Regions from separate parts of the Homo sapiens genome. Here region 2 is linked to region 1. The links come from fine-mapping of genetic effects on gene expression. Tissue or cell type: cerebellar hemisphere. Region 1 holds a variant in brackets; the other region holds the start of a gene. All regions are shown on one strand. Distances are between the middles of the regions.

Region 1 (2,500 bases):
GCTAAGTGAAAGAAACCAGTCAACACAAAAGACCACGTAAGATTCCACTTATGAAATATCTGGAACAGGCAAATCTATAAGGACAGAAAATAGATTAGTGGTTGCCTAAAGTTGGAATGGAGGTTGGGGAAAATCATGAGCGCTAATGGGTATGAAGTTTTCTTTTGAGTGATGAAAATGTTTTAAAACTGATGTGGTGATGATTGTACAGCAGCTCTAGCAAACTGACACAGGTGACAAGGATAAAGACATTCATCTGGCTGGAGGGGAAATAAGTTCTTCCTTAAGTCTTTCAAAAATTTGGACCCATGGGGGGTGACTAGAAGGGATATGACCTAAGAGCTCAAGGGATTTGAAAACATTGTGCTTGCTCACCTACACCCATCTAATCTTCGACAAAGCTAACAAAAACAAGCAATGAGGAAAGGACTCTATTCAAGAAATGCTGCTAGGATAACTTGCTAGCCATATGCAGATTGAAATTGGATCCCTACCATTCACCATATACAAAAACCAACTCAAGATGAATTAAAGACTTAAATGTAAAATCTGAAACTATAAAGAACCCTAGAAGAAAATCTGTGACCCTCAGCAAGTGCAATTATTATTTTTTCTTTCCAACTTTTATTTTAGTTTCAAGGGGGTACTTGCTGAGGGTCACAGGGTCCAGAAGAGTCTTTGAAATGGAGGTGGAAGTTTTCACAGGTGTATGTGTGTGTGTTTCTGTGTGTGTGTGTGCGTGTGTGTGTGTGTGTGCATGTCATGTGCACATTTGTGGGCCAAAGTATTATAGAAACAAAGTCGTGGAGACAGGAGAGCATGAAGTGGGTTTGGGAGCAGCACAGGGATGAATGATAGGATTAGGCCAGGGAGGCAAGCTGGGGCTTTGTTTCAGATACTGCTCCAGTGGGTGGCCCCATTTTTCAGGGCTAGATGAAGATAACGAAAGTGGGAGCCACTGTTTCCCCACAAGTTTCCTAGAGGAGAGGATGGGCCAATCAGTGGTTGTCCTGGAAGCCACAATGAGCCTAGAGCCCATGTGTGAGATATAGACAAGGAAAAGTCACTTGGGGCAGTTGGGAATATCAACGAGGAAGGAACCTTCCACCCTAAAGGTGTGGTAAACTTAGGAGAGGTTGGGTCCACGCAAAGAGGGTCTACTTTGGGAGTGGGTACATTAGGGAGGCACAGAAGGGAAGAGATAAACTAATGAAATTAGTATCTGCTGAGCAGCTTCTGTGTCCCAAACACTCTACTAGGCCTTTCAGGTGTGTTATCTGAGCTCCTTCTCACAATAGCCCAGTAAAAATGGTACCATTACCCCATCTTCCACATAAGAAATAGGCTCAGAGAGAGGTAGTCACACGCCCAAAGGCAAACAGCTAGTGGCCAGGCTGAGCATGAATCTAAATTTCCCTGTTTCATTTTTACACTCTACCATACCTCTGCAATAATTTTTGAAAGGACAGATTGCCTGGCCAGATGGG[A/C]CATCTGCTCAGTTCTTGTTGACCACATTCCACCCACCCCTCTGGCATAAACATGCCTTGTTCACCCAAGCAGAGGAGCTTGGATACCATCTACGCCTCCTTGGGTTCTTAAAGACCACAAGAATAGTCACCCAAGATGAAATGGTGATGCTTTTGCCTAAAGCGGGGGCCTCAGTGGGCTCAGAGACCGATGGGAATGTGTGTGACAGTGTGTTTATCATATTCAAAGGGAGACCTTTCTGATAACAACTGTTGTACTGGGGACAGTTATTTTCAACCAGGGCTCTTTCAAGAAAATATGGTCAATAAACTTCATGTGCCCTTCAGCTAAAAGCATTTTACTTTAACCTTCAGCTATAGAAAGCCTGGGGAATATGACAACGGTTTTCGTTCATTGACCACCTACTGTGTACCAGGGGCTCTACATATATTATCTTTCGTTGTGATGGGAAACACAGGGATGGTGCATTGCCAGCCACTGAAGCCAACGTAGCAGAAGCATGAGAGCCCTTGTCACATAGGTGAGCACCAGGGCAGTAATCCCCAAAGTCTGCTGGGTGGAAAGAATGGGTGGTCCTCTATCTGGTGCGCTCCCTGCAGCCACACAGATTGCATTTCTGGGACACTTGCTATGGTTTAAATACGATCCCCAAATTTTATGTATTCGATATTTAATCCCCAAATTTATATGTTGATGGCATTTGGAGGTGGAAACTTTGGGAGGTAATTACCATTAGATAAGGTCATCAGGGTGGGGTCCCCAAGATGGAACTGGTAGCTTTATAAGAAGAGGAAGAGGGACCTGAGCTGGCATGCTCTTGCTGTCTTACCATGTGATGCCCTTTGTGATGTTATGACATGATAAGAAAGCCCTCACCAGATGCAGCCCCTCAACCTTGGACTTCCCAGCCTCCAGAACTATAAGAAGTATTTTTTTTCTTCATAAATTACCCGTCCTTGCGTATTCAGCCATAGCAACAGAAAAAAGACAAAGACAATACTGTGATCTGCAT
Region 2 (2,621 bases), 75 kb after region 1:
GCGCAGGAGCAAAATGTCCAGGAAGGAGGGAGAGAGACCAGAGGAAGGAGGAGGCGCCTCTTTCACCCGCGTCCCCAGGTCCCCATGTACGCCACGTGGGTGGGAGCGTGTCCCACACACCCGCGCGCCCAAAGCCACATTCGCCACGCTCCCGCCGGGGCGGGCTCACCGCGCGCCTCTGGGTGCCGAGCCTCCACAGGCCACATAGCCGCCACCTGCTGCTGCATCCCCACTGCGGGGACAGGGGCACTCAGTGCCTCCCTCCGTCCCCCCCGCCCCGCGAAGGCCTCCCATCCTCCAGGGCCAGGCGGAGGCCACGTCTTTCCCGGGCCCCCTCCCCAACGCGGAGAGGGAAGCGGAGGGAGGAGCTTGGCCCGCAGCCGCCGGCCCTCCCCGCACTGGAGCTCCCCCTCCCCTCCCTCCCCGCCCCTCGGCTGCCGCAGCCCGGCTCGCAGCGCGCGTCAGCGGGGGCTCCCCGGAGCGAGTCGCTAGGTAACGGGGCTGGCTCCGCAGACGCGGGGCCGGGGAAGCCCGCGCGCGTCATCAGCAGCGGCGCCGCGGGGCGGGGGGCGCAGAGACCCTCCCCAATCCCGGCCTGCCACCACCTGGCTCGCGCGCAGCCCCGGCCCAGAATGCCTTAACCTGCGCCGATTGCTGCCGCCGAGGTGCCCCTCCCCTGTAGGGACCCCGACGCCGCCAGCCCCTTCCTCCTTTCCCGCAGGTGCGCACTGCTGTGCTTGCGGCCGGGTGGGCGCCCCGCCGCTGCGGTCGCGGTCGCCGCTGGTAAGCTGCGCTCTGGGGCTTGGGGCAGGAAGCAGTGGGGGGCGCTCGAAGAGCAGGGCAGCTACGGCCACCGTGGCCGCCGGACCGGCCATGTGCTAAAGTTTCTGGGGCTCGGCGCCCCGCTGGGCGCGCAGCGCGGGGAGCAGACGCGCCGTGGGTGGGGCAGCGCGGTGCTGCTGGCGCCCGGCCCCCGCGGGGTGCAGCTCTGCGCGTTCTCATGCTGTCTCTCTCTCTTTCCCTCCGCGCTGCCTCTCCGAGGTCCTCCCGCCGAGCCCCGGCGCGGGGCATGAGGAGCCCCCGGGTGCCGCCCAGAGACCAGCAGGCTGCGCGCACACCTAGCCAGCGGCAGACGGGGACATGAGCAGCGCGCACGGGGTCCCGCGCCCGGCGGCCAGCCCTATCCGGCGGCGGCCAGCGGGTCAACGCTGCCCGGGAGAATGAGGCAGGAGCCGGCGGCAGCCTCCTTTTTTTCCTTCTCCTCGCCTTCCTGCGGCTCCGGCGCTCCGGGTCCGGGCCGGGCTGCGGCTCTGCTGCGTGCCCCGCGCGCCCCTCAACCGCCTCCGGATGCGCTTCTCGGTAAGCCAGGCCCTCCGCCTCGCGAACAAAGCTCCCTTCGCAGGGCCCGGAGGCCGCCTCAGGGCCCCTGTCCTACCCTCCTTCCCCACTTACAGCCTGGAAACATTCGGGGCTTCCGATTGAATCGTTCAATTTCCCCTGCCCCGAAGCCCCGCCTGGAGGCTGAACTGCCCGGGCAGACCTGGTGCTTTCTTCTGCCTTCTGGAGAAAGATGTGGGTTTGACATGCAGGCGGGAGACCTGTCTGGTCTAGATAACGGCATGTGTATGCAGCTAGGTTCAGACTTAGCATTTGGGGGCAACAACTCTTATTTAGTGGGTGTCCAGGCCGTGCCGGGCAGTGTGCCTCAAAGCCGCTCTGGGAAATAGGTCCCCGTTTCTCCTTGGCCCAGATGAGGAAACTGAGGCTTAGAGAGGTTGAATGACTTAATCAAGGTCACAAGGTTAGGAAGTGGGAGACCAGGATTGGAAACCAGGGTACCCTACTTCCCTGCCAGACTGTTCCCTTTGTAACAAACACACCTGTCTCATTTCTTCTACTAACTGCTTCCGTCTCGAGAGTCATTGCGTGTGTGTGAAAATACTTGCTCCAATGAGTATCTGTTCTGATGAAATAAATTGCCTGTAGCAAGCACTTTTTGTCCATCCTGCCATCACGCTGCTGCCAACCCCTAATGTGTACTCTACTTTTTAGTTCAGGTGAGAGGATAATATGTTTTCCTAGGTGTTCTCTTTCCTGGGGTTCTGTTTTCCCAGTCCTCCTGAAGGATGGAAAGGACAGTGGTTCCTCCTGTGTGCCCAGCACATGCTAGGCCTCAGAACTGCATCCTTAACCTTTCCCTGGGGGCAGGGCTCATCAAGGTTACCTGCCCCTGGTTTTGTAAATCTTGGAGATGATTACTTAACCGGAGCGGGGGCTGATCCCAGATGGCCACTGTGCAGGGGCTGGCCCAGTGTTGGCTCATATTTGCCAGCCCTCAGTGTCAGCAGAACTTCTGAGCCCCAAACACTTCTGAGCCCCAAAGAAAAGGAGTTTTAATGCAGATACGATGCCTGATGCATGCCCCCAGTTCTCTGGCTTGCCGCTGTTAGCTGTTTGCTTAAGTGCATTTAGTTAACTGTTTGCTTAAGTGCATTTAGTTAACTGTTTGCTTAAGTGCATTTAGTTCCTGAAGGGGCAAGCCACCTGGAATCAATTGATCCTGGTCTGAGGGGCTTGTTCCATTGGTGAAGTCACAGTGTTGAGCTCAGTTGTCTACACGT

Alleles and levels. Positions count from the first base shown, and alleles are read on the strand shown. Sizes are in standard deviations (SD) of each study's normalised expression.
As copies of C replace A in region 1, the expression in cerebellar hemisphere of the gene that starts at base 1,014 in region 2 goes up (moderate effect, 0.45 SD a copy in GTEx).

What was found. PIP is the estimated chance that this variant, and not a neighbour inherited with it, causes the effect.
Region 2: it holds the start of TUNAR, and the variant in region 1 is fine-mapped to the expression of TUNAR in cerebellar hemisphere (GTEx, PIP 0.90).

What each region holds. Positions count from the first base shown.
Region 1 is chr14:95,800,505-95,803,004 of GRCh38, forward strand. No RefSeq gene overlaps it. Among named protein-coding and RNA genes, the nearest start is that of TUNAR, 75 kb to the right of the region's middle. The variant A/C (reference allele first, on the strand shown) is at 1,488.
Region 2 is chr14:95,875,819-95,878,439 of GRCh38, forward strand. TUNAR (transmembrane neural differentiation associated intracellular calcium regulator) reads left to right here and starts at 1,014. Exons shown (of 2, transcript NM_001416131.1): 1 at 1,014-1,359. The coding sequence starts at 1,348.